Linked DNA regions of Homo sapiens. The protein of the gene in region 1 interacts with the protein of each later gene in a pairwise test. Each region holds a gene or a part of one and is shown in the gene's direction. Other genes may lie near its edges. The genes, in order: GTF2IRD1, PKP2 and ALMS1.

Evidence for each region.
Region 2: the proteins of GTF2IRD1 (region 1) and PKP2 interact in a two-hybrid assay, tested with the Homo sapiens proteins (one study listed by BioGRID and IntAct).
Region 3: the proteins of GTF2IRD1 (region 1) and ALMS1 interact in a two-hybrid assay, tested with the Homo sapiens proteins (one study listed by BioGRID and IntAct).

Annotation. Positions count from the first base shown.
Region 1 is NC_000007.14:74,512,878-74,519,986, forward strand, and holds part of GTF2IRD1 (general transcription factor II-I repeat domain-containing protein 1), read left to right. Parts: coding exon 1-94; intron 95-2,467; coding exon of another isoform or gene 2,468-2,563; coding exon 2,564-2,719; intron 2,720-5,261; coding exon 5,262-5,445; intron 5,446-6,531; coding exon 6,532-6,842; intron 6,843-7,109. UniProt on the Homo sapiens protein: May be a transcription regulator involved in cell-cycle progression and skeletal muscle differentiation. May repress GTF2I transcriptional functions, by preventing its nuclear residency, or by inhibiting its transcriptional activation.
Region 2 is NC_000012.12:32,886,696-32,893,804, reverse strand, and holds part of PKP2 (plakophilin-2), read left to right. Parts: intron 1-7,109. UniProt on the Homo sapiens protein: A component of desmosome cell-cell junctions which are required for positive regulation of cellular adhesion.
Region 3 is NC_000002.12:73,381,872-73,388,869, forward strand, and holds the start of ALMS1 (centrosome-associated protein ALMS1), read left to right. Parts: upstream 1-3,964; 5' UTR 3,965-3,997; coding exon 3,998-4,321; intron 4,322-6,998. UniProt on the Homo sapiens protein: Involved in PCM1-dependent intracellular transport. Required, directly or indirectly, for the localization of NCAPD2 to the proximal ends of centrioles.

The DNA of each region.
Region 1 (7,109 bases):
CACGATGAGAGCGCCTTTGTGGTGGGCACAGAGAAGGGGAGAATGTTCCTGAATGCCCGGAAGGAGCTACAGTCAGACTTCCTCAGGTTCTGCCGTGAGTACCCCAGGGCTCCGGAGGGCCGGGCCCGCCATTTCCCGAGGGCAGGCGCTCTAGCCCATCTCTGGGTCCCCAACCCTGTCTAGCCAGGGTGGCGGTGTGTGGGGAGTGAACCTAACAAGCTAGGTTGTCTGAGATTCCCGATGTGGTGTTATTGAGGCAGCCCCTGAGTTGATAGAGACTGGCTGGGTGAACCCCAGGGTAGGCCAGAGCCAGCCACTTCCATCTGCCTTTTCCAGATGGGGACACCAAGGCCAAGGCTGCTGCTCAGTTCTTCCTCTTAACTATGTATTCCTGAACACAAGGACCAAATGCACTTATGCCAACACAATTTTTTTTTTCTTTAAATGAGACAGAGTCTTGCCCTGTCACCCAGGCTGGAGTGCAGTGGCACAATTTTGGCTCACTGCAACCTCTGCCTCCCAGGTTCAAGTGATTCTCCTGCCTCAGCTTCCCGAGCAGCTGGGATTACAGGCACCTACCACCACGCCCAACTAATTTTGTATTTTTAGTAGAGACGGGGTTTCACCTTGTTGGCCAGGCTGGTCTCGAACTCCTGACCTCAGGTGACCCGCCCACCTCAGCCTCCCAAAGTGCTGGGATTACAGATGTGAGCCGCCATGCCTGGCCATGTTCCAATAAGATTTATTGAATGCCTGCTGTACATAGCATCTTTTCTGATGCTAACTCACCTACCCTGACATCAACCTGAGGGGGCAGGCACTGTCATGGCTATAGTCAGGGTTAACATCTTAGGCCAGGTGCAGTGGCTCATGTCTGTAGTCCTAGCACTTCGGGAGGCTGAAATGGGAGGATCACTTGAGCCCAGGAGTTGGAGACCAGGCTGGGCAACATAGCAAGGCCTCTGTCTCTACAAAAAATTTAAAAATTAACCAGGCTTGATGGTGTACACCTGTAGTCCCAGCTGCTTGAGAGGCTGAGGCAGGAGGATCACTTGAGCCTGGGAGTTCAAGACTACAGTGAGCTACGATGGCACCCCTGCACTCCAGCCTGGGTGACAGTGAGTCCCCATCTCAAAAGAACCATGGTATAGCATGAGGTTAAGAGAACGGGCCGCCTGGGTCCACAACTGCTGTGCCTCAACCCACTCATCTGTGAAAGGGGAGGACGGGTGGGTCTGAGGGTTAAACGAATTGGTACCTTGCAAGCACTTAGGGCAGTGTCTGGCACTTGGTTCACACTCAATAGACACCAGCTGTTGTTACTATTATTAGTATTCACCTCACACCCCTAAGATCAGCTGTTTCAGGGAAGGGCATCCCCCAGCGCTGGGCCTAGCATTACTGGGGTGCAGCCGCATCCCCAGCCAGCCCCCCACCCCCCTCAGCCCTCAGAGCCTAGACCTTCTCCAGGGCCAGGATGGGGGACTGGGCCGGGTAGAATGGACAGCAGCAGGTCGTGTGGCACCCCAGCCGCCCAGAGCCTGAGGCGGTGCACCTGCCTTCTAGAGCCACGCAGAGCCGCTATTTATAGCACCAGGAACTCGGCTGGTTTATTTCAAGCTCCGCAGATCCCAGAGGAGAATAGGCTCCAAGCTGGGAGGGGGCCGCAGGCCCCTCCTCTCATCTCCTTTCCAATGCAGCTTCTAGAACATTCCCCAAGGATCCACCAACACTCTCCGGTCCCCACCCTGGCCCAGCCTGGCATGAACCTGCTGTTTGCAACCCACGGCCTCCTTGGAGCAGGGGTTGGGGGGTGCCTCCCAACCCTCTGCCGGAGGGTTTTCTCTCCCTCCGGCAGAGCAGAAAACGGTGGCATAGATTGGTCAAGACAGTGTTCGTGTCAGAGCACAGAAAGGCATGGATGGGGCCGGGCATGGTAGCTCACACCTGTAATCCCAGCACTTTGGTCAGGAGTTCGAGACCAGCCTGGCCAACATGGTGAGACCCCATCTCTACTAAAAATACAAAAATTAGCTGGGTAAGGTGGCAGGCGCCTATAATCCCAGCTACTCGGGAGGCTGAGGCAGGAGAATCACTTGAACCCTGGAGGTGGAGGTTGTAGTGAGCCAAGCTTGTGCCACTGCACTCCAGCCTGGGCAACAGAGCGAGACTCTGTCTCAAAAAAAAAAAAAAAAAAAAAAATAGAAAGACACAGATGGAACATTCATCGAACCTCAGTTCTGAGCTGGAATAGCTGGCCTCCCGTGAACATTCACAGACTGAGGCTCAGAGAGAGAAGGGACTAACCCAAGGTCACACAGCAAATTAGAGGTGACCAGAGGTGAGGCCCAGCCCTGGGAACTCTGAGATGACCAGCCCTGGCCCTCAGTGGGGTGGTTGGAATAGGGCTTGCTCACTCATTAATTCTTCATTCATTCATTCACTTGTGTATCACATTGTGTGCCAGTCTCCGCAGCTCAGCACAGGGCAGCGACATCCCAGCTCGAAGGCCGGGTGGTGAGACGGGTGCTCACTGTGGCCTCGCGTGCTCTGTGTCCCACAGGAGGGCCCCCGTGGAAGGATCCGGAGGCAGAGCACCCCAAGAAGGTGCAGCGGGGCGAGGGTGGAGGCCGTAGCCTCCCTCGGTCCTCCCTGGAACATGGCTCAGATGTGTACCTTCTGCGGAAGATGGTAGAGGAGGTGTTTGATGTTCTTTATAGTAAGATCCTTCCTCATTCCATTTGGGGGCCCCAGGGAGGGTGGGAGCCTCGGTCCCCACCCAGCAGAGGGGGCCCCCTCCTGTCCCACTATGGGCCCTGGGCAAAGCCGGACCCCAAGGCATGGGGCTACTGGCTACCCCAGCCCTTCCTCATCTCTGCATTCCCAGACACAGAAGTTCTGCTCCAGCCGTTTTCCAAACCTCCACCCCTACTGTCCCTGCCCTGGCTCAAGTCACTGCCACCTCTCGCCTAGAAATAGCCCCAGGCTTGCCACGGTCTCCCTGCTTCCAGACCAGCTCTCTACACCTGCCCTGCAACCAAGGGTATCTTCTCAAAGCACAAGTCTGATCATTAATGAAGCTCTTCTCTCCACAGCCTTCGGGGGCTCCCCATCACCCTGAGCATGGCACAGGGGCCCACACACCCATCCTCATCCCCTCCACACCTTCTTCTCCCACTAGGTGACAGGGCCCTACTGACCTCTCTACAGAACCACTTCCAGTTCTCCAGCACTCGCTGGTGCATTTCACATGCCCTGGACTTCGCGCTGTTACATCTTTTGAGACTGCCTTTCCCCTCCTGTGTCTGGCAGACACCTGCGTGGCACTGAGGCTCTGCTCCTGGAAGCCCCCTCACAGTGGGTTTAGGCCCCTCTCTTGGCACCCACAGTGCCCTGTCCCCTCTCCAGCCCAAGAGCTCTCCAGAGTCAGGGGCTGTGTCTGCCCTTTCTAGCTGTCTCCAGCCTACAGTTCAGAGCCCAGCAACAGCAGGTGCTTGGAGAATGTTTGTTGAATGACTAAGTGAAGGCTGATTGCTCAGCCATGTCTTTCCTGCAGGAAGAGGAGACCTGGCCTCCCTTGGGAAGCGTCAGGTTGCAGAGGGCCTCAGGGCCCCAGTGGTGGTCTTCACACGCCCTGGGAAACATCGGGCAGGTCCCTTTGGTGCTCAGGGTCCCACCTCATTCATTTCTGATTTGGCTTTATCCCTTCTCCTACTGTAGCCTTTGGTTTTATGGAGCAAAGGTCTGTGAGGAAACTTCTGCTGTTCTTATGTCAGAAGGAGGGGTACCCAGAGGCCCTGGGTGGTCACACTGGCCACCCTGGGATGGGGGACTTGCCACGCATGGTTGGCTGTGCCTCTGTCGACACTTTTGCCAGCTGCAGGGCCCCGCGCCCCTGCCCGCCTTGCCCTGGCCCCCCTTGTCCACTTTGGGCAGAATTCAAGGAGGCTATGAGAGGATGGGCCTCTTTCTGGCTCAGGGTGGGGGCTGTAGCATGGAGGTGACAACAGATATCCCAGTGCCCAGTCCTCAGTCCCCAGCCTGCCTCCCCTCCTCTGTGCCCCCGAGCCCCCATCTTTGTTCCTGCGTCTTCTCAGTCTGTCTCTTTCTCCTCTCTCCTGTCTTTGTTGTTGTTGTTGTTGTTGTTGTTGTTGTTGTTGTTTTGAGATGAAGTTTCACTCTGTTGCCCAGGCTGGAGTGCAATGGCATGATCTCGGCTCATTACAACCTCCCCCTCCTGGGTTCAAGCAATTCTCCTGCCTCAGCCTCCTGAGTAGCTGGGATTACAGGCACCTGCCACCACACCTGGATAATTTTTATATTTTTAGTAGAGACGGGGTTTCACCATGTTGGCCAGGCTGGTCTCAAACTCCTGACCTCAAGTGATCCACCTGCCTCGGTAATCCCAAAGTGCTGGGATTACAGGCGTGAGCCACCACGCCCAGCCTCTCCCATCTTTTTCTCAATCCCCTATTTTTGCTCCCTCTCCACTTCCTCTTCTTCTTACTTTCTCTCCCCCCTCTCGGTCTCTCTCCCTTCCTCCCTACACCTTTTTTTTTTTTTTTTTTTTTTTGAGATGGATTCTCGTTCTGTTACCCAGGCTGGAGTGCAGCGGCTCACTGCAACCCACCTCCCGGGTTCAAGCGATTCTCCTGCCTCAGCCTCCCAAGTAGCTGGGATTACAGGCATGCACCACCACACCCAGCTAATTTTTGTATTTTTAGTAGAGACGGGGTTTCATCATGTTGGCCAGGCTGGTCTCGAACTCCTGGCCTCAAGTGATCCTCCCTCCTCAGCCTCCCAAAATGCTGGGATGACAGGCGTGAGCCACCACGCCCAGCCCTTATAGCTTTTTCCTTGCAGCCTGGCTCATGCAAGTCCCCACTTCTCCGTCTCTTCTGCCCTCTTTTCTCCTACCGGATTGTCTGCCTCTGCTCTGTCCTCTGGGCCCTTGAGTCCCCGATTTCCCCTCCAGCCAGGTGCCCAGAGTGGAGAGGGGCTTGGTCGGGGAGGGCAGCAGGGAACCTGCTTGGTGGGGGAGCCCCAGCCCCCCAGATGCAGACAATTGGGCCTTGTCCACACCACCCACCCCCAGCCTGCAGGCGGTTATTCTGCACAAAGTCTGCAGTTATGAGGGGTCCATGGGAACCCCGCACCAAGGGGAGCCACTCAGCACTGCCCCCACTCTGGGGCACAGCAGCCCCGACCCCAGCCTGGCTGCCCTCTCATACCAGGCCCCTCTCCTGGACTCTCCCCTACAGGCGAGGCCCTGGGAAGGGCCAGTGTGGTGCCACTGCCCTATGAGAGGCTGCTCAGGGAGCCAGGGCTGCTGGCCGTGCAGGGGCTGCCCGAAGGCCTGGCCTTCCGAAGGCCAGCCGAGTATGACCCCAAGGCCCTCATGGCCATCCTGGAACACAGCCACCGCATCCGCTTCAAGCTCAAGAGGTGAGTGAGGTAGCCGGCCCGGGGCTGGGCTGGGGCTGGGCCAGGGCCGGGTCAGGGCCGGGGGCTGGAGGCCACTTAGCCAGAGGGGAAGGGACTTGAGATGCCCGTGGGGGACCCTGGTGGTGAAAGCTCCCAGTCTGATGGTGGAGGTGAAGTGAAAGCGAAGTCATAGAACAGGATCTGAGCCAGGTCATTAAGCCTTGAAGTCTTCCCAGGGAAGTTGCATTGCAGAGAGACTTGAAGAGACATGACTTGGGACAAAATAGCACCAAAGTGGTCGGGTACAGTAGCTCATGCCTGTAATCTCAGCACTTTGGGAGGCTGAGGTGGGAGGATCACTTGAGGCCAGGAGTTCAAGACCAGCCTGGGCAACATACCAAGACCCTGTCTCTGCCAAAAAATAAAAATAAAAAAAATTACCCAGGTGTGGTGGTGCACACCTGTCATCTCAGCTGTTCAGGAGGCTGAGGCAGGAGGCTTGCTTGAGCCCAGGAGTTTGAGGATGCAGTGAGCTGTGATTGCGTCACTGCACTCCAGCATGGGCAACAGAGCAAGACCCCATCTCTTAAAAAAAAAATATGGCATTTTAGGTGTCAGAAACGGGAGAACCATGTCCTGTGCTTGCTCAGGTTGTAAATCTGGGGTTAATTAGGGATCCAGGGGAGATTAGGTTGTTGAGGCTGGTCTGAGGCAGTACCAGTTGTCAGGAGAGCCAAGAAGGCAGCCTGAGGGCTTAAGGTTGAACCCATCTCTGCTAAGTGCCCCAGGCAATGCAGAGGCAGGAAGGGGAGGGGTGCAGCAGGAGACAGGAGGCAATCAACCGCACCTGGCGGGATCTGAACAGTGGATTGGAGCAGAGGGGCAGGGCCCAGGTCCTCCGGTGGCCTAGCTCTGTGGCCCTGGGCACACCATTCCCACCTCCGAGCCTGCATCCCCACTTGTGAAGTGGAAGAGCAGCTCCTGTCCTGCCCTCCTCATGGGGCTGTTATGTTCTGCAGAGGGCAGGGATGCGGGGTTTTCGGGGGAAGAGCTGCAATGTGTGAAACAGATGTACAAAGCTGTCCATGTGTCCTCTCCTTTACTCAGGCCACTTGAGGATGGCGGGCGGGACTCGAAGGCCCTGGTGGAGCTGAACGGTGTCTCCCTGATTCCCAAGGGGTCACGGGACTGTGGCCTGCATGGCCAGGCCCCCAAGGTGCCACCCCAGGACCTGCCCCCAACCGCCACCTCCTCCTCCATGGCCAGCTTCCTGTACAGCACGGCGCTCCCCAACCACGCCATCCGAGAGCTCAAGCAGGAAGCACCTTCCTGCCCCCTTGCCCCCAGCGACCTGGGCCTGAGTCGGCCCATGCCAGAGCCCAAGGCCACCGGTGCCCAAGACTTCTCCGACTGTTGTGGTAACATTGCTGCTGGGATCTCCAAGTCTAGGGGGTGGGACAGAGGTCACTCATGCAGGGGACAGCCTCCCAGGGCAGGTCAGGATGCCTGGGCCCTCTTAGGTTGGAAGGAGCCATGTCTGGGCATGGGAGTGGGACTGGACAGATGGTGTCCTGGCTGAGACCCCCTTGGACCTTGGGTCTCTGCTCAGCCATCTGTGAATGATGTCCTTGGCCTTGGACTAAGAGGACGCCTGCGAGGACTCCCTGGGTCCCAGCTACTCGGGA
Region 2 (7,109 bases), on another chromosome or scaffold:
GAGGGAACAGAATGAATATTTCACAGTTCACAGAGTTGATATGGTAGAACAAAGGGCACTATCTTGGTCCTTCTGCTATAATGCTTGGGTCAACTACTTGACTGGCTGTTCCAACTAAGGAACAAAGCGTTTGAAATATTTTGATTGCAACAGCAGCTTTCCAGTAAGCTGAAATACACTCTGCAGCCTACACAGAAGTACAAATCAGACAGAGAGATAAGGCAGCAAACAACACCTACTTACTTTAAAGCCTCAGCTTTCTAAGACTCAAAAAGGAAATCAGCTTCAAAGGAATTTAACATTAGCATGCCATGAAACAATTACCAGGGGTGGTTCGTATGTATTGTTTAATTAAACTTCTTTGAAAAGGTCTGGGGGCTCGTGGTGGTTCTGAGTATAATTTTTATTATTTCCATGTTACTATCCTGTCTCTCAAGTTGAAACAGACAAGCAATTGTTGAAACAGTGCTGGTCTGGAAAAAATCCTGTATCAACACAAGAAATTCCAGGAAGAAAAGACCCTGATGTTAACTGCTATTAGCTCCAGGGCCCTGGAGAATTCTGAGTTGTTGACAAACCTGTAAGGTTGAGACAGCGGATAACCTGCTGAAAGCAGAGATGAGATAAATGTGGCTGATTTGTTGATAAGTATCTTGCAAGAGTCTTTAACCCTTTGTCTTCTTTCCAATGCCTTAGTATAGCTGGGTGGTTTTCATTGTAAATCACTCAGTGACTTTTGGTGTTATTTTTAACTGTGCTGAACATTTTAAAGTTGGCTGTAACTCTTTGGGAAGGGGCCTTCAGAGGTGTATAGCAGCATTGTGAAGTAAGTCTGTATTGTAGCTAATAGTTAAAATATTTTTCTAAAATAGAAGACATTTAAGAATTGCAAGTATTGGCAAAGGGAAAAATTAAAAGCATCCATATCCTATTTATTACACTTGCCTTAAAAGTACTACTTGCTACACAGTTCTCCCCCCCCCCCCGCCCCCACCCCAGGTATCTGAGTGGAGAGAAAATTGTGTTTTAAATTGTATTTACTACTTATAAAGGACAGTGAACAATCTCCTAATGCAATTATATTTACAACCTCTTTGGAAATCCACCACAAAACTTGAGGCACACTATTATCTTAGGTGATTTCCTTGGTGAAGCTGCTTTTCAATATCTGTGATCAAAGTGAATTCTGGGCTGGGCGCAGTGACTCATGCCTGTAGTCTCACCATTTTAGGAGGCCGAGACGGGTGGATTACCTGAGGTCAGGAGTTTGAGATCAGCCTGGCCAACATGGTGAAACCCTGTGTCTACTAAAAATAAAAAACAAATTAGCCAGGTGTGGTGGTGCATACCTGTAATCCCAGCTACTAGGGAGCCTGAGGCAGGAGAATTGCTTGAACCTGGGAGTCAGAGGTTTCAGTGAGCCAAGATCATGCCACTGCCTCCAGCCTGGGCGATGGAGTGAGACTCCATCTCAAAAAAAAAAAAAAAAGTGAATTCTGGAGAGAGAATTGAAAATTGGCTCAGGGTAGCAAAAGAAAGGTAGTTACTAGGCGCTACTGTTAAAAAAAAGTTAGACATTGTTCAAATTCTGCATAAATTCTTCCTTTGACAAAAAGGAATCCCAGGAATGAAGCAATTCTGGGGAGCAAGGTGACTAATCGTTCAGAAAGTAGGAGGGATCAGGAAAGGGAAAAAAAAGAGTGAGATGGCGGGTGGCAGGGTCATGGCCCTCTGCTCTGAATGTGAGGTGTCAGTAGCACACTGGATTAAATGCACCTCTGTGTCTGTGTAATATGGCCTGTGAGCCACTTTTTGTCCAGGGCCAAGCAGATTGAGTTCGGTAAGTCCAAAAATAATTAAAGAAATCCTTCTGATTATAGTAAGTGAAATAGAATGTTAACAAAATGGTAGTTAACAACAACAACAAAAAAAACTTCACACCCCTGGAAATGTTGAGAACACATCTCTTAGGGGTGAAGTTTTGTGTGAGGGTAAAGTAAGGATGCTTCAGAATCCGTGGAACTGTAAGAAACCACAAGTAGACCCAGAGTAGCAGGGTTTGATTATGAAAGTACATTGTTCTATATGTGACAGATAAGACGCAGGAAATTACCTTAAAGGAAGGAAGACTGTTCATTTAGGCTTTTAAAAGACTGTTGTTATCTGTATGCCCTGTGCTAAGAGTTCCACAGTCATGGGAACAGAGGGTAGCTTTTGTATTAAATATTCTAGGTATTTGTAGTTCACATTTCCTCAAAGTTTTAGATAGCAACTTTACAGTTTTTTCTCATTTATTAAAATAAGCCTATACATAGTTACATTATTTTATCTTCACATTTTAACATTGATTTTACCCTACAATTGAATTCCTAGTCTGATCAATACAAATTATTAAAAGTTTTGATTTTTTTTCTCTGAGAGAACAAGCATATTATTGGCAAACTATGATAGTAATGAAATATAATAAATATGATGCTAAAACCTCTGGAGTTTATAAATCAGATGATTAATATGGCCTATAAGATGATTTATTTCCATCTCAGATGACATTCAACAAGTTTAAATTATACAATTCTGAGACAAATGTTGGACTTCAGGTATCTTGTGCATGTCTACAAATATATGAAGATAAATACCCTACTTCTCCTGAGGAAGTAAATTAGCAGTAAAAGGCAGCAATGCAAGTGGGAATAGACAATAAATTAGGAGAAAACTTTATTTTTCTATTAGAGTGAGCCACCTGGCTCCCCTGACTAGTAGAGTAAGACTACTAAACAAACTATCAAGTGCTCTCATAATAAAAACATTAAAAACCTGTTGTGTGTCTTTTCTTTTCTTTTTTTTTTTTTTTTGTTTCGCTCTTGTTGCCCAGGCTGGAGTGCGGTGGTACGATCTCGGCTCACTGCAACCTCTGCCTCCCGAGTTCAAGCGATTTTCCTGCCTCAGCCTCCCGAGTAGCTGGGATTACAGGCACCCGCCACCAAGCCCAGCTAATTTTTTGTATTTTTAGTAGAGACAGGGTTTCACCATGTTGGCCAGGATGGTCTCGAACTCCTGACCTCAGGTGATCCGCCCACCTCTGCCTCCCAAAGTGCTGGGATCTCAGGCGTGAGCCACCGCACCCGGCCTGTGTATCTTTTCTATAATGCCATTTCTGGTAATTGGATATTGGACATAAAAACAGTTGTAATGTTCTTAAAGTGTTTAAAGACAAAAGCTTGAGAGCTCAATATGTAGATTTAAATAAAAATGGACAGTTGGAAAAAAAGAAACTTAAGCATTTGAAAACACAACCTGCCATTACTATTAAAATAATTCACATATTTATATTCTTGGAATAATCAGCTTTAGACTTAATAACATTCGTTAACCTAAGCAGTCATAATCAAAGTTCTGCAATTCCTTGATTTCCAGAATTTGTGGATGAAAACCTTCATTAGAAGCTTAATGGATTATTTTTTCTGAATCTCTCAGTAAGCTATTTATGGGGTGGGTGTGGGTGAGCATCAAGCTTATTGGATCTTGATTACTCTTTTTCATTGAAGAATGAAAACAAATGGGAACTTTTCTTGACAGATAATATGAATTTATAGGCCACCAAAATATTACAGATAAATACACAAGCCATACAGATAAAAGAATGATAGTAAACATATATTATTCAAATATAGAAACAACCTTGCCAAAATGAACAAAGTCAGCTTTTCTTTTTTTTTTTTTTTTTTTTTTTGAGATGGAGTCTCGCTCTATGCCCAGGCTGGAGTGCGGTGGCACAATCTCGGCTCACTGCAACCTCCGTCTCCTCGGGTTCAAGCGATTCTCCTGCCTCAGCCTCTCAAGTAAGTGGGATTACAGGTGTGTGCCACCACACCCGGCTAATTTTTGTATTTTTAGTAGAGATGGAGTTTCACCATGTTAGCCAGGATGGTCTCGATCTCCTGACCGATCCACCCGCCTCGGCCTCCCAAAGTGCTGGGATTACAGGCATGAGCCACTGCACCTGGCCCAAAGTCTGCTTTTCTAATAAAAGTCTGCCTACATTCTGGGGAAGCAACTTTCCTTCCTCTCCGTATACCCAGAATGACAGAGAACAGTCGAAACTATTTGAGCACCTTCCATCTACCCCAAGACAAAAGCATGTATGTGACTATCATACTCACATTTTAGTTCCATTCTGGTGAGCCACAGAATACATACCTGCCTGAATGATTAAGCGCAAACTGAATTTGTGTAACTAGGATATTTCTAATGTACAGGTAATCTGACTAATCAACAATTAACTTGTCAAGTACTGATACAAGACTGTGCTAGAAGTGGTAGTGTAAGATACAGTTCTTTCTGTCAAAATCTCTTTGGAAGAGAAAATAACCTCTTTGTTTTAACGTGGCCCCACTCCAATCCATTCTCCACACAGCTGCTAGAGTGAACTTTCTAAAATCTCATTGCATCATTTCCCAGTTTAAATTCCTTCAGTTTCTTACTGTTATCTGCAAGAGTAAAATTATTGAACACAGCATTCCAAGTTCTTCGTGATCTAATGCCTGCAACTTCTCAAACTTCATCCCTGGGGCCACTACCCTTGCTCCCCACCAAACACACACAGGCAGTTTATCTTGCTTGGTATTTCTACCCCTCCTTGTCTCCCTCCCTTCCTTCTCTTGCCCAGTTAACTTAGTTCAGTTGTGTCCCTTATAGGCAGCCTCCTTCACCCCTCTCCTCTGATCTTGAATGCAAGTTAAAGAATTTGATAATTGTGAGTCACAGATATTTCCACAGGGAAGAAACATGAAAAGTGCAGGAGTTTTGTGAAAATACATTTGACAGATTTGGTGGATTTAAAGTAGGAACAGACCTAGCATGGTGGCTCTTTCCTGTAATCCCAGCACTTTGAGAGGCCGAGACAGGAGAATCGCCTGAGGCCAGGAGTTCAAGGCTGCAGTGAGCTCTGAATGCACCACTGCACGCCAGCCTGGGCAACAGAGTGACCCTGTCTCAAAAAAAAAAAAAAAAGAGGCCGGGCGCAGTGGCTCACGCCTGTAATCCCAGCACTTTGGGAGGCTGAGGCGGGTGGATCATCTGAGGTCGGGAGTTTGAGACTAGCCTGATCAACATGGAGAAACCCTGTCTCTACTAAAAGTACAGAAAAAATAAGCTGGGCGTGGTGGCGCATGCCTGTAATCCCAGCTACTTGGGAGGCTGAGGCAGGAGAATCACTTGAACCCGGGAAGTGGAGGTTGCGGTGAGCCGAGATCGTGCCATTGCACTCCAGCCTGGGCAACAAGAGTGAAAATCTGTCTCAAAAAAAAAAAAAGAAAAAGAAAAGTTGGGTTAGCAGTTATGAATCAGTTGGGAGGGGTTAACCCTGGCACGTGAGAGGCAGGGGAAATATAATGACTTGAAAGTCATTACAAAGAAAACCTGTAGTAAGTATTTTAAAGCAAAAAATAATTTGTGAGTTCTATAAATTCACCTTTTTTTATATTATTGGGAGTATAATGTGATATTTGCCATGGAAGTTATAAAGTCTTACAAGTCTTAAAGTCTCATGAGATATCTCAGCAAATAATTGGCAGGAATGCCAAAGTAAAGACACAGTTACAGAAATGAACAGTGTATTCATTCATTCATTCATGAGACAGCGTCTGTCTCTGTTGCCCAGGCTGGAGTGCATCTTGGCTCACTGCAACCTCTGCCCCCCGGGCTCAAGCCATTCTCTCACCTCAGCCTCCTGAGTAGTTGGGACTACAGGTGTACGCCACCACACCCAGCTAATTTTTGTATTTTTTTTGTACAGATGGGGTTTTGCCTTTTTGCCCAGGCTGGTCTCAAATTCCTGGACTCAAGTGATCTGCCCACCTTGACCTCCCAAAGTGCTGGGATTACAGGCATGAGCCACCGTGCCTGGCTGAGAAATGAACAGATTTAGATACTTCCAGGATATTTCTATTTAATACTTCACCAGGATGCTAAATTACCAGTTTATAATAACAAATTCTACAATTACATATTCTAATACCTCAAACAAAATATGACATGAACACCTGTGATATAAAAGGGCCATTTAATGGCTCACGCCTAAAGCGCTGGCACTTTGGGAGCCCGAGGCGGGTAGAACTCTTGAGGCCAGGAGTTTGAGGCCAGCCTGGCCAACATGGCAAAACCCCATCTCTACTAAAAATACAAAAATTAGTCAGCATGGTGGCACACACCTGTAGTCCAGCTACTCGGAAGGCTGAGGCACAAGAATCGCTTGATCCTGAGAGGAAGAGGTTTCAGTGAGCCAAGATCGCACCGCTGCACTTCAGCCTGGGCGACAGAGCAAGACTCCATCTCAATAAAAAAAGTGGGAGGGGGACATTTAAAATGTGTTTTTGTCATTACCTAGAGCAGTGATTTGAGGATTGCCCCCCAAATGTCATAAATTGGTATATCAGAAGATAGCTCTTGAATTGCTTAGGGGGCTCCTGAAAAATAAGGACTCTAGTGGCTGGTATATCGTGTGAGTGATAACAGCAATGGATTAGTCAGTCGCACACTGGCATGTGGTATGTGTGGCCCACTCTTGCAGGAGAGCTGTTCTGTCCCTGGCATATTCAACGTTTTAAGAACTCATAGCCAGTACTTTCTAGCATATACCTGATACACCAAGTTGTTTCTCATGGTTGATTATGTGAGCTAACTGGTCACAAAATATAGCACTGTACAACTATTGGTTAAATTTTCAATAGTATAAAACTTTATTAGACTTTCATCTGCTTTGAAACAATTTTTCACCATAGTGTTCCCTTTTTTTTTTTCCTTTTTGAGACAGAGTCTTGCTTTCTGTCACCCAGCCTGGAGTGCAGTGGCCCAACCTCAGCTAACTGCAACTTCTGTCTCCAGGGCTCAAGCAATCCACCCACCTCAGCTTCCCAAGTAGCTGGGACTACAGGCCCATGCCACCATGCCCAGCTAATTTTTAAATTTTTAAAATTTTGTAGAGACGAGATCTCACTATATTGCCCAGGCTGGTCTCAAACTCTTGGACTCGAGTGATCCACCCACCTCAGCCTCCCCAAGTGCTAGGATTGCTAGTGTGAGCCACCCTGCCCAGCCAACTATAGTTTTCT
Region 3 (6,998 bases), on another chromosome or scaffold:
CAAAGTCAGGCCACAGGACCATTAATCTATGATATTCAGATTTTCACTATTGCTAAATTTATGCTGATCTGGAGGATGCAGTCTGTAGTTGGGTTAATTCCGCCTTCTGTTGTAGGATTTGTTGAATCATATGATATGACAATGGCTGTGCAGAAACTAGGGCTGTGGATAGGATACGTTGACCAAGTGCAAAAGAAGCAATTACCAGAAACAAAATGATTATCCATCTTTGTAAAAAGTCTTGAAGACAGGGACCCAGATTATAAAGTCCTGGCAATGAAAACATGCCCCAGAATCCAGCTGAGTCTGTTTTTAGGGAGCCAGGAGGATTTTCTCTTTTCAGTTTACTCATGTTCTACTGACTCTGTAGTATGTTCTACTGGCCCAGTAGTATGTGAGTATGGTGACAAGTGTTGCTAAATACAAACTCCTCCTTGGCCAGCTAAGAAGAAATCAAGGGTTATATAATTATCCATGAAAACTCTGGCTAAGGAATTCAAATTTAAGTGGTTTTCTGAGCTGCTATAGCAGAAGTTTTGCTATCTATGGGGTCTGCTAAGGTCAAATACCTCTCTTGGATCTGATCTCTTTCTGTTGTATTATCTTTGTTGTAGGAATTTCATTCACAGAGTACACATGAAAAATGAGTCAGTTATCCCTCCTGGGAGTTCTCCCAAGTAGTCTGTGATTGTGTGCTTGCTTCATTTTGTTGGTTTCTGGGTGTTCTTTTCAAAGAAACACAGTCTACTGGAGGGGTGGTAATTTTAAGCACTGGAGGGTCTCTAACAATTAGCTTCAATATAAAGGGTAAGTTAGTGGGCAAGCCAGATGTTCCCATAAATAAGTAGTACCCTAGGGGAGTACAGACTGCATTGGGAGGATAAGGGCTATTTAGCACATCAGGGACAAGCCAACTTTCTTTCCCTCAGGATAAGCAGATTTCTTGGATGAAGTTAAACAGGTTTCTCCAAAGCAGGCTGGAATGTTTTGGAAGAGAATGACCTGAGTAGTGTATAAAGAATAGCCCCAATATTAGTTTCTATTCCTGAAGGGCTAGGTTTTTCTCATAGGATTGTAATGACTTCAGGGAAACATTCTGTTGAAGTGTAGGTCAAGGTCCAATTTTTAGAAGACTGAGGTTTGGGATGAACTTTGTGGGGAATGCTTAAGTACCAGAAGTGACCTACAGAAGAAAATCTACTTGATGAAGTCTATGAAAGCACAGTTATTAAATTTTGTCAACAATTCCTTAAAAGCAGTAGCTACGGTTTGAGAAAAACACTCCAGAAAGTGTCTCTTTTCTTTTCTTTTTTTCCTTCCCTTTCCTTTCTCTTTCCCTTTCCCCTTTCCCCTCCTTTCCTTTCCTTTCTCTTTCTCTCTTCTCCCTTTCTCTCTTTCTTTTTTAGATTGGGTTTCACTTTGTTGCCCATTGGCACGATCACAGCTCACTGCAGTCTTGGACTCCTGAGCTTCAAGGACCCTCTTGCCTCAGCCTCCTGAGTAGCTGGGACTCCAGATACGTGCCACCATGCCCAGCTAATTTTTTATTGTTTTTAGAGATGGGGGTCTTGCTACATTGCCTACGTTAGTTAGACTCCTGGTCTCAAGTGATCTTCCCACCTTGGCTTTCTAAAGTGCTGGAATTACAGGTATGACCCACTGCACCTGGCCAAATAATGTTTACTTTAAGTAGTAGAACATAGGGAGTCAAAAGTAACAGGATGAAGATAAGGGTTATCTCCCCGAGAAATCAATTTGTTAGTTAATCAAGGGTGTCAAAATGCAATAAGCAAGATTAGTGGTAGGGTAAGAGATGCCAAGGAATCAGAAATTAATCTTGTCCTGTTGTCTTGGGTATAAACTGCCCATTTCTGCAGTAAGCAGCTTCTGGGGAAGTCCCAGGAATCTTCAGTTTGAGGTCTTCCAATAGTATGGGATGTCCGGTAGCCAGGAGAAAATGATGCATGTCTTTTTAGTTGTGTAATATGAATCCAGGGATCAATGTCTTCTAGTTTTACTCCTGGGTCAGTTGTTGATAGTACCTGACATTTTTTTTTCTTGCATTGAGGCTCAAGGGAAATTGTTTTCTAATGCTTTTTCAGAAGACCAAATCTCTAACTTCAGAAGCTGCTTAGGTGGGTGCTTTGAGAATGCAGCTTCCATCTGTTGTTGATAAAGCAGGAGTTAATCTTAGAAGTCTCCTGCAGCAATTAGTGATAACAGCTTATATTAGTAGCATCTAGTATTGGAAGTAATTCACAAATACATGAGGAAGCCTGTTATTAACTCAGAAGGAGATAACTTATGGGCCTTAGAATGGACTGACCTTATTGCCATCAAGGCAAATAGAAGTACTTTGGGCTTTGGAAGTTAGATGGAAGTTAGAGAACTTTGAAAGCTATTTTTTAGAATTCTATTAGTTCTCTTTATCTTTCCTGAAATTTGTGGATGCAAAAAGATAGCGGAGTTTCTAAAAAGGTAAAGCTTTACAGTTATTTAATATCAGTGAAATGTGTGTCCTCTTACTGGAGATAAACATTGAGATTTCACATTCAGGAATACAAAATTAATAAATTCTTTTCTACTATTACAGTAATAGGTCTCCGGCAAGGAGAACCCCTAAACCCCTTAAGAATAAATAACCCTAATGTACTCATAGTCCATTTAGAGGTGTTCAACAGAACTCCAAGACTGGGCTCCAGTTCATGTTCTACCCTTAAAGTTTTGCCAGGATTGGGTCATTGACAGGTAGGCAGGACATACATCCTTGGCAATAACCCTAAAATTGCCCCACCAACATTGGTTCAGCATCATTATCAATGTATCTCTACTATTGTGGGTAATACCATGAAGACTTTTTGCTGGACTCCACTTTAATTATGGCTATTTCCTTTGGTAACAGTGAAGCATCTCAAGATTATAATTATTATTTAAAATTTTAATTTAAAAATTTTCCCCATAGGTTATTGGGGGTACAGGTGGTGTCTGGTTACATGGCATCTTAAGATACTTTAATTTGCCATTCATTTCGTAGAGGTTCCTGAAGCGGTCAGGAAATCTTTGTTTTTAAAGCACTCCAAAGTCATTGACGAACCACCAAAACATATGTACTATCAGTATAAATATTTGCTCTGTTATCCTTTAACAGCTGGTTGGTCTAGGCCAGGGCAATTCCTACACTAACAGAGGACCTGGGATGGCATACTGAGTCAGCCACTTACTAGGTAAGAAACTTTGGGCAAATTAATTTTTTTAGCCTCAGATTCTTCATACATGAAATAGTAATACTTGTCTCACAGAACCGTGAGCATCTAATGAGTTATTGTACAATAACCAACCTATCACTAAGTCCTTCACATTGATTATTTCCTTTAATTATCACACCCATCCTATGCGATGGCCTATTATCATCGTTTTATAAACACAAAGTCACACCACTTTAAGTGGTGATGCCAGGATTCAAACTCCGATCTTTCTGATGCCAGTGCCCAGTTCTTAATCCCTCTAACAACCCGTGACACTTTTCCACGGTTAGGTTCAAGCGCCCACCATACAGCTTGACACTTTAGGAGATACTCAACCTTTAAAACTTTATAATTTGCATGTGTGATTATAACGGGTACGTCCTAGAGTTTGATCTCTTCTCTGTGCAGGGGCGAAACTCGACCCCAGCCGAGAACTACACTGTCCTTGCGCGGGGCCCTCTGCGCCCCGGAAGGCGCCCAGTCCCGGTTTATTGTGAGCTTACAGTACAGTTCGCAAGGTCCCGGCCGGTGACGGCGGCGAGGCGGCAACGTCGCCTGTAGCAAACCTCCGCCCTAAGGCGTTCCCGCCGGGCCTCGCGCGGCGTCCCTAGCAACGCGCGCGCGGTCTTCCGGCCCCGCCCAGGCGGGCGGCACTGCGCCTAAGCTGGGCCACAACCGCCAGTCAGGGCTCTCCCCTTCCCCTCCCTCCCCCCCTCCTCCTCCTCCTCTGCCGCCCAGAGCGAGACACCAACATGGAGCCCGAGGATCTGCCATGGCCGGGCGAGCTGGAGGAGGAGGAGGAGGAGGAGGAGGAGGAGGAGGAGGAAGAGGAGGAGGCTGCAGCGGCGGCGGCGGCGAACGTGGACGACGTAGTGGTCGTGGAGGAGGTGGAGGAAGAGGCGGGGCGGGAGTTGGACTCCGACTCTCACTACGGGCCCCAGCATCTGGAAAGTATAGACGACGAGGAGGACGAGGAGGCCAAGGCCTGGCTGCAGGCGCACCCCGGCAGGATTTTGCCTCCGCTGTCGCCCCCGCAGCACCGCTACTCGGAGGGCGAGCGGACCTCCCTGGAGAAGGTGAGGCGGGCCGGGGAGGGGTGTGGAGCCGCGGCGAGTTGGGGGTGGAGGCTGGGCCCCGAGCGCTCCGCCCGCCCGCAGGTCACGCCGCCTGACGGAGAAAACGCGCGCAGCTGAGGCTAGTAGGCGGCCCAGACTCCAGCCCAGGTGCCGGCCGGCTGCTCCGCGTCTCCCAGGCTTTGTGGCAAAGACTTCTCGTTTCCTCCCCCTCGGTGGGTCCTGGGCCTTTTGAACTCCCGTAGACGTTCAGGGGAGCCTGCATTCCCCGTGAGAAACGCTGAGAGAGGACCACGGGTGTGTCGAGCCTTGAAGGAGGGAAAAGGCGGTGTAGGACCGGAGCGAGTGGTTGCCTGGGGAGCATCTTGTTGGGGAGACAGTGAACAGATGAGCTTGACTGAATTGCAGGACTCCCCTGAGGGAGTAATGTGGATAATGTACACCGCGCGATCACTTAGTCTGGAGAGGCTCCCCGCGGGTTTTCCTCCCCTGGACCATCATTTGTAGCAATAAAGGGGTTCCCCAGCCGATAGGAGGGGCTTGGAATGCAGGAGGCTTGTGATGCGGCTCCAAACAGTCTGCAAAACTACAAAGCACAGATAATACACAATGGAGAAAGCCGATTTCATGGTAGACCCCCGAAGATCATTTTGAAAATAACTCTCCATTTAATTTGCTGCCCTTACCCCCCTTTTTTTAACTTACTGCTTTTCGAGGAGCAAGACCTGCCCTGCTCAGTACAGTAGCCACTGGCCACGTGTGGCTTTTTACATCTTAAAGAGAAAACTATTATAGTTTTGAGTAAGAGTTAAAAATAAATTAAATGAAAAATTCCATGCGTCTGTTCTTACCGGTTTTCAAGTGCTCAGCAGCCACACTAGGCTAGTGGCTACCATGTTGGACAGAGCAGATAATGGAACAGTTCCATCATCACAGACAGTGAAGGTGTAGAGTTTTGTCACTAATGAGCAGTAGTTGTTGTTTTGTCTGGTGAATATTCCAGGGGGTACTTAATTCATTGAACATGTATTATTAGAATTCACCATGTGCCACACATTGTGCTGGGTGCTAAGGAAAGCTTGGTGAACCCAAACATTTTTGGTCTCTGCCTTCCTTGTGTTCATGGTCTAGACAGGGAGGCAGACAGATTTCAGATGATCACATAAAGTGAAACTAATATATGTGCTAATATTCTATGAAAGCATAAAGTAAGATAATCTGGCCTTGTCAGTGAAGTTGGGAAAGCCTTCTTGAGGAGGTTATGATAGAGCTGATATCTGAAGACAGTTTAAGGTTAATCAGGCAAAGGGGAGGGAAAGAGCCGTCTAGCTGAGGGAAAAACACATGAAAAGGTACTGTTGATGAGAGAGAGCATGGCATTTTCCAGGACCCAGAAGCCAACGTGGTTTGAGCACAGACTGCAAGGCTTTGTGTGCTATGCCAAGGATTTAGGGGCTTTATCTCTGGAGCTTTGGGGAGTTGAAGAAAATATTTGAAACGAGGGGATGTATGATAAGTTAGGTGTTTCAGAAAGGTCAGGTGTATAGCAGAGTGTGGAACAGCTGTGATAGCAAGGTGGGATGGGGAGCAGTAGCCATAGGTCAAGGGCATAAATTAGGAGACCATTGCAGCATTGCCCGGCAAAAGATGATGAAAGTTTGGAATAGGGAAGTGTTGGTGGATACAGGGAAAAGTGGACTGATTTGAGAGATATTTAAGAGGCAAAATCATCATACTTAATAACGGATGGGATGTGAAAGGTGAAGTAGCCAGGTGTTAGGTTATTGTTTGAATGGTTGTGCCAATATTAAGATATGGCCAGATTTATGGTGGAGGTGGTGGCTGTGAGTGGGTGGTGGAATTGGTTGGGTGAGTCTTAAGATTATGAGTTTGGTTTTGAAGATTGAAGGAGAAGGCTGGGCTAGAGATTTCAAGTTGTAAGTCATTTACATAGAGACCATAATTAAAGCCACACTTGTTGACTAGGTCTTCTAACTTTTATTTTGTCCTGTGACTTCTTGCTTGAATAACTATTAATATTCAAACTTTATCTTGAAGCCTAGAGGAGGAGTTTTTTAAACAAAATTTTAATTTAATTTTAGATTTGGGGGTACATATGCACGTAATTAACATGGATATATTGCATAATGGTGAGGTTTGGGCTTCTAGTGAACCTCTCACCCAAATAATATACCTTTGTACGTGATAGTGTAACATTGTACTTGATAGGTAATTTTTCAGCCCTTCTCTCCTCCTTCTGGAGCCCCCAGTGTCTGTTTATTTCCATCTTTATGTCTGTGGGTACTTATTGTACCCATTTATCTTTATGCCTCTGTGTACCCATTGTACCCACTTGTCTTACCAGTGAGAGCATGTGGTATTTGATTTTCTGTTTCTGAATTGTTTCACTTGATAAATAGCCTCCAGGCTCCATCCATGTTGCTGCAAAGGACAGGATTTCATTCTGTTTATAGCTGCATAATATTCCACAATGTATATTAATACATACTACATTTTCTTTACCCATTCAGTTGTTGATGGACACTTAGGTTGATTTCATGACTTTGCTATTGTGAACGGTGCTGTGATAAACATATGAGCACAGATTTTTTTCTTTTTTTTTAATGGCGTCTAGCTGGTGTAGAACACCTGGGCTCAAGTGATACTCCGCCTTGGCTTC